Homo sapiens: one gene and its partner. The protein of the gene in region 1 purifies or fractionates together with the protein of each later gene. This does not show direct contact. Each region holds a gene or a part of one and is shown on either strand. Other genes may lie near its edges. The genes, in order: SMO and ST13.

Evidence for each region.
Region 2: the proteins of SMO (region 1) and ST13 fractionate together in Homo sapiens (co-fractionation; one large-scale study listed by BioGRID). This does not show direct contact.

What each region holds. Positions count from the first base shown.
Region 1 is NC_000007.14:129,202,092-129,205,912, forward strand, and holds part of SMO (protein smoothened precursor), read left to right. Parts: intron 1-531; exon of another isoform or gene 532-645; intron 646-1,292; coding exon 1,293-1,498; intron 1,499-3,111; coding exon 3,112-3,321; intron 3,322-3,518; coding exon 3,519-3,691; intron 3,692-3,821. UniProt on the Homo sapiens protein: G protein-coupled receptor which associates with the patched protein (PTCH) to transduce hedgehog protein signaling. Binding of sonic hedgehog (SHH) to its receptor patched prevents inhibition of smoothened (SMO) by patched.
Region 2 is NC_000022.11:40,842,887-40,846,707, forward strand, and holds part of ST13 (hsc70-interacting protein), read right to left. Parts: intron 2,024-3,821; coding exon 1,953-2,023; intron 1-1,952. UniProt on the Homo sapiens protein: One HIP oligomer binds the ATPase domains of at least two HSC70 molecules dependent on activation of the HSC70 ATPase by HSP40. Stabilizes the ADP state of HSC70 that has a high affinity for substrate protein.

The DNA of each region.
Region 1 (3,821 bases):
AGAGGCCTCAGACAAATAATCATAAGAGTTAACATTTCCTGAGCGCTTACTACATGACAGGTACTGTGCCAAGGGCATTTAAAGCATTATATCACTTTTCACAGCAGTTCCATGAGGTAAATCTATCATCCCCATTTTACAGATGAGGCAACTGAGGCTAAAGATAAAGTACTTTGCCCAAGATCATACAGCCAGGAAAGAGTGGAGCCAAGATTTGGACCCAGGCTGGGCAGTTGCCATGCACATGCCCCTTACCTCTCTACTATGTTGCCTTCCCCCGAAAAGAGTGGTTACCTGTCTCTACCACCCCCAGCCTGGAAATGTGACCGGCACCCATGTTGGCTCTCACATCCTCATATTCTCTCCTAATGCAACTTCTTGCTTGGGAAATAGATATTGCTGAAGCAGGGTTGATTCAGGAAGGGCTTCTGTGATGGGCAGGGCGGAGGACTAGGCTGGGGACGGGTGCTGGGAGATTGCCGCCTGTTTCTGTCTTGCTGACAACATTTTTCCCCTCTCCGCACTGGACAGAGCCTCTTCTGTTCCTCTCCATCTGACTTCCTGCTTCCTCCTCTGGCTTTGGAGTGCCTGGCTCCTCTGACTACCTCTTCTTAAGCCCCCATCTCTTCTCTCTCACTCCGCTTGGTAAGAGGAACAAGGGTTCTGGGGTCTGGGCAAAGGGAAACATCTCCTGGCTCTAGCAAATGGGCCCCGTGAGAGTTGGGTGCACCCCTGAAAAGGTAAATCCACCCCGGGGAGCTCTACCAGAGGCATTACCACTCCCTAGCAGGGCATCTGGAAGTGGCAGTTATTTTCTTAAAACTTAAATGATAGTAAGCATACAGAATAGCGCACAGATCATGAGCTTGGTTTCCACAAGGTGAATACACTCATGTAACCAGTATCAGATCAGGAGATAGAATATTCCCAACATCCCATGTAACCAGTACCAGATCAAGAAGTAAAACATTCCCAGCAGCCCAGAGGTTCCTCTCCAGGCTCCCTTCTAGTCACCGTCCCTAGAGTAGAGGGCTGGGGCATTTTTGTTTGTCACAATCACTTCTGGGTTCTACTGGCATTGAGTTGGCAGAGTCTAGTGTCTGCAATGCATGGGACAGTCCTATGGTATAAAGAACTGTCCTGCCCAGATGCACTGTTGAGAAACACTGTACCTGCCAGGTCTGACCAGTGATGGGCTGCAGTGTGGCAAAGGCCTGGAGGACAGGGGTGAAGCTGCGTCTGTGGGTCAGAGTGAGGAGGGGCCTTCACTGCAATGCTGTTGCCACCCCCAGGCCTCCGGAATGCCCCCCGCTGCTGGGCAGTGATCCAGCCCCTGCTGTGTGCCGTATACATGCCCAAGTGTGAGAATGACCGGGTGGAGCTGCCCAGCCGTACCCTCTGCCAGGCCACCCGAGGCCCCTGTGCCATCGTGGAGAGGGAGCGGGGCTGGCCTGACTTCCTGCGCTGCACTCCTGACCGCTTCCCTGAAGGCTGCACGGTGAGTGCTCTGTGAGACAAGGTCCAGGCTCTCTGGGTTGGGCAGGACCGGGTATAGGGCAGGGTCCAGTGGGGAGCAGGGGAGCCCAGAGCTTTGTCTCCTGGAGACCCTGAGCCTACAGCCATGGGGTCAACAGGACACAAACTCAAACTGCAGCTCACTGGCTGGATCCGTCTATTAGGGATTCTCTATTTATTTATCAATGATCACATGTTCAGCAAAATGTTTTGAGCACTGGCTGTTGGGTGTTGTGGTGTTACGGGCATCACGGATGACAGGAGCCTATCAGGAAGTTTCTCATGTATGTTGGGAGTTAAGGCGCGAGCGTGTGAAACAGCTAGAGCCACCAAGACAGGGGACGTGAGCTAGTTCTGGGTGGTGCAGGAGAGGTCTTCAATGAAAATAATAACAGTAATAATGATGGTAATAATACTAATTAGTCCTGTTTACTATATGCCAAATGCCATTATAATAAGCTCATGCCTGTAATCCCAGCACTTTGGGAGGTCGAGGTGGGCAGATCACCTGAAGTCAGGAGTTCCAGACCAGCCTGGCCAACGTGGCAAAACCCTGTCTCTACTAAAAATACAAACATAAGCCTGATGTCATGGTGTGCGCCTGTAGTCCCAGCTACTCGGGAGGCTGAGACACGAGAATCGCTTGAACCCGGGAGGTGGAAGTTGCAGTGAGCTGAGATCGTGCCACTGAACTCCAGCCTGGGCTACAGAGTGAGACTCTGTCTCAAAATAAATAAATAAATAAATAGGCTGGCCAGACACAGTGGCTCATGCCTGTTATCCCCACCACTTTGGAAGGCTGAGGCGGGTGGATCACTTGATGAGGTCAGAAGTTCAAGACCAGCCTGACCAACATGGTGAAACTCCGTCTCTACTAAAAATACAAAAAATTAGCCAGACATGGTGGTGGGCACCTGTATTCTCAGCTACTTGGGAGGCTGAGGCAGTAGAATCGCTTGAACCCGGGAGGTGGAGGTTGCAGTGAGCCAAGATTGTGCCATTGCACTGCAGCCTGGGCGACAGAGCCAGACTCTGTCTCTCTCTTTCTATATATATAATATATGTTTATTCATTTAACCCTTAAACCATACCATAAGGTAAGTACTACCATCTTAGAAATGGGGAAACTGGCCGGGCGCAGTGGCTCACGCCTGTAATCCCAGCACTTTGGGAGGCCGAGGTGGGTGGATCATGAGGTCAGGAGTTCAAGACCAGCCTGGCCAACCTGGTGAAACCCCGTCTAAAATACAAAATTTAGCCGGGTGTGGTGGTGGGCGCCTGTAGTCCCAGCTACTCGGGAGTCTGAGGCAGGAGAATTGCCCGGGAGGCAGAGGTTGCAGTGAGCTGAGATCACGCCACTGCACTCCAGCCTGGGCGACAGAGCGAGACTGTCTAAAAAAAGAAAGAAAAAAAGAAAGAAAGAAGTGGGGAAACTGAGGTACAGAGAGGCCAAATAATTTGCCAAGCCAGCCCTGGGATTCAGGTCCTGGAAGTGTATCTCCAGCCACCCTGCCATGCTACCTAGATACCTTTCCCTAAACAAGAGGCTCGTCCCTGAGCTGCCTTGACACCGTCTTTTCCCATCCCTGGTGCCAGAATGAGGTGCAGAACATCAAGTTCAACAGTTCAGGCCAGTGCGAAGTGCCCTTGGTTCGGACAGACAACCCCAAGAGCTGGTACGAGGACGTGGAGGGCTGCGGCATCCAGTGCCAGAACCCGCTCTTCACAGAGGCTGAGCACCAGGACATGCACAGCTACATCGCGGCCTTCGGGGCCGTCACGGGCCTCTGCACGCTCTTCACCCTGGTCAGCCGCGGGAGGGCAGGCCCGGGGGGCCCTCAGCCTGGAACGTGGGAAGAGAGCCAGAGGGAAGGGGGGCAAAGAGGTCTTGGTGGGGGTCCCCAGGGAAGGGTCATGATCAGAAGGGTCTGGGGCTCAGTTAAGGGTGTCTGTGTCAGCAGAATAACCCTAACCTCACAGAATGGCCCACTTCTCTCTTCTAGGCCACATTCGTGGCTGACTGGCGGAACTCGAATCGCTACCCTGCTGTTATTCTCTTCTACGTCAATGCGTGCTTCTTTGTGGGCAGCATTGGCTGGCTGGCCCAGTTCATGGATGGTGCCCGCCGAGAGATCGTCTGCCGTGCAGATGGCACCATGAGGCTTGGGGAGCCCACGTAGGTGTCTTGGGGACCCAGAGGTGAAGGTACAGGGAGGAAGGCTGAAGTGTGCGTTTACCCCAAAGGGAGCAGGTGCGTGTAAAACCGAGATCCAGGGCAGGATCTGGCTCTGCCCTACTGCATACTG
Region 2 (3,821 bases), on another chromosome or scaffold:
CATACCTGTAATCCCAGCACTCTGGAAGGCCAGGAGTTTGAGATTTTGTCTCTACTAAGAATTTTTAAAAATAAAAATAAAAAACTAGCTGGACATGGTGGTGCATGACTATAGTCCCAGCTGGTCAGGAGGCTGAGGTGGGAGGATCACTTGAGCCCAGGGCGTCAAGGGCGCAGTGAGCTATGATTGTACCACTACACTCCAGCCTGGATGGAAGAGTGAGACACTGTCTCAAAAAAACAAAGCACAAGACTTATGGGGAACACGTTAGTAAGTTATTAAAATATTTTAAAAACACCTAAAAATTGGGCAGATAACATTATTTATGGATAGTTTATCTCAATGGTGAGGAGATATATCTTTTCCCGAACTTGATTTAGATTTAACACAATTCTAACAAAGGGGAAAAAAACCAATGGAAGCGGGGAGACTTGATCAACCTATTTCTAAAATTTACTTGGAAAAACAAAAAGCCAAGAACAGCCAAAAGACTAAAAAGTTTTGGGGGTCCTTGTTCTACAAAATAACAAGACTTAGTATCAGACGATGTGGCATTAGTGAACAGAAAAAAAATAGACAAGCAGAACAATAAACTCCTGAAACAGACCCACAATATTCAGAAACAGTGTATTTTAGTTTTGGTGGGACCGGTAGATTAAAGGTGAAAGGTGAGTGTATAAAATGTTCAGAAGAGAAAAAGCAATGCACTACAGCAATTATAACCTCAAAGTAATAAAGCAGAAAATATCTGCATTAAAAGATACTATTTTTGAAACAACATGAAGAAAGATGAGTGAAGATGAGTCACAAACTAGCAGAAAATATATGCAGCACTAGCAACAAATTATTAGCATCCAGAATATTGAAATGAAATACAAAGCAGTAAGAAAAAGATCCAGCAAAAAGTGGAAAAAGTTTAAACAGGAGTTCGCAAATGCCAGTGAACAGCCAATAAACATTTAAATATGCTCAGCCTCATTAGGAATCAGGAAAATGCATTTTTTTTTTTTTTTTTAAATAGAGTTTTGCTCTGTCGCTCAGGCTGGAGTGCAGGGGTGCGATCTCACCTCACTGCAACCTCTGCCTCCTGGGTTCAAGTGATTCTCCTGCCTCAGCCTCCCAAGTAGCTGGGATTACAGGCGTGCACCATCATGCCTGGCTTATTTTTGTATTATTAGTAGAGACGGGGTTTCACCATGTTGGCCAGGCTGGTCTCAAACTCCTGACCTTAGATGATCCACCCACCTCGGCCTCCCAAAGTGCTGGGATTACAGGCGTGAGCCACCCTGTCTGGCCAGGAAAATGCAAATTAAAAGCCACAAAAAGATACCATTTCCCACAATACTTGGCAAAGATGAAATCTGATAATATCAAGTTTTGAGGATAAAAACCAATCTTTTAAAACTGCTATTACTATATTAGAGTGTTTCTCAAATTTTTATCAGACACTAAGGAGCCTTTTTAGACATCTTTTCCTCATTTCCATATCCCCAATTTTAATACCACAGATACACTACATATTAATATTCTATGAGTCTTTGGAGGACCACTAACCATTGTAATATATAGAATTTTTTTTAAGCCCTCCTCCCAAGAACCAATTTTCACTCCCTTGAGGGCCTGTTATGACAAACCATTCTGTAATACAATTTGGCATTAGATATTCCATCAAGAGCAACTCCACTAATAGGTATGTATTTTAAGTGAATTCTGCGTTACAGTGCAAGCAGTCACACCAGATGCAAACTTAAAAAACAGATAAAACAGAAAGTAACAGTATTTATTTTCATTAGTATTTTAAGTAGTAAAATACAATGCTTGCCTAAAACGCCTGAAGTCAGAGAAAGATTTACTATGCGCTTTTCCTGGAAGAATCGTGTCATAAAATCATTGCAACAGCAGGACCTTTCACATTTCTTAGAACAAGCAGGAAATCAAGTCACCGAACTTACCTCCGCATTTTCATCTCCCATTTCTTGAGGAGCATCAGTGTCTGGTTCAATCACACCTTCTTTATCAATTTCTGCCAAAGTCGAGAAAATGACAATAAGACCTGCACCGTACAATATAGTAGCCACTCCCAAGATTATTAAAAACTGACATACTATGACTACTACAATTAATTATTTTAAGTATTGATGCATTTTAAAATATGTTCCCATTAAACATTTCGTTACTTTGGTAAGACTACACTTTACGTTAACTGTCACATCATGTAAGATATTTATTATCAGGTTGTAGTGGGGTTGTTGACATGTGCAGTTTCTAGTATTACACATAAATACACCACTGATTTAGTCATTGTATATAAATACACCATTGTCAACAAACTGATTTAGTTCAAATAATTTTTTTCTACACACTGATGTACTATGTTTTTCAAAAATATGCAGGTAAGCTACAGTGATACTTCAACGTAAATCAAAATATTTTAATATAATTACATTCATTACTTTCCTTTTTTAAAATTAAAATAATTTTGGGGGGGGCACAGGATCTTACTATGTTGTCCAAGAAATCCTCCCACCTCGGCCTCCCAAAGCACTAGGATTCCAAGCATGAGCCACTGCACCTGGTCCCTAATTATTTTCATTTTTAAAAGTAGCATGGACAAGTTTTAATTTTAAAATAAAGGCTTACTACTGATGCAGAATCAAGTACCAAGGCTAGATTTAAAAATAAATTTAGTTTCCATATGTACAGTAGTGACCAAAGCTAGTACTTACAACCAAAACAGTAAAGAATGAAAAGCAGTATCTTGCTTTTCAAATTGTCATTTAACAGTTGTCAGTTAAATGACAACTGTAATTTGTTGCAAGTGGAAAACGAGTTTTATATATATATACACACACACACGCACGTATCATTTAAAAAGAACACATTTGCAAATAGTTAATTTGATAAGAAGTTTCCTTAGTCAAAAAAAAAAAATTTAAAATCACCCACCTAAAATCAGAATTACTGTCCAGCAACAACAAAACTTGACGCATGACTGACAAACTATATATATACATATATGTATATGGTGTACAATGCGATGTTTTAACATACAGGCATATCGTTTTTTGAGACGGAGTTTCGCTTTTGTTGCCGAGGTTGGAGTGCAGTGGCGCAATCTTGGCTCACCGTAACCTCTGCCTCCCAGGTTCAAGCAATTGTCCTGCGTCAGTCTCCCAGGTAGCTGGGATTACAGGCATGTGTCACCACACCTGGCTAATTTTGTATTTTTAGTAGAGATGGGGTTTCTCCATGTTAGTCAGGCTGGTCTCCAACTCCCGACCTCAGGTGGTCCACCCGCCTCAGCCTCCCAAAGTGCTGGGATTAAAGGTGTGAGTCACCGTGCCTGACCTCAGGCATACCTCATTTTATTGTGTTTCACTTTACTGCACCTCACATAATGAAATGATTCTCACCCATCATATTAATAACTATCCATCTCACATATTTATTTGTTTTTGGTGAGAACACTGAAGATCCAGTCTCTTAACAAATTTCAAGTATACAGTATTATAGTCATGCTGTATACTGGATCTCTGGAATTTATTCAGATTATAGCTCAAAGTTTATGCCCTTTAACACGGTAAAAAAATTTTAATCCATTTTTTAACAGCAACTAAGCTTGTCTATCAAAGTTTGATTTGTATACAAAAAAGAAAACACTTTTAGGTGGAGAGTTGGTTAAAAAATTTATTGTAGTTTTAGAAACTGGTAGAAAGTAAGACTAAAGAGGCATTTTATAAAAAGTAAAAGATCTTCAATTTAGCACTCAAACAACTGCCAGTAGAATGTAAGACCTCTAATGATATCAAAGATAATTTGAT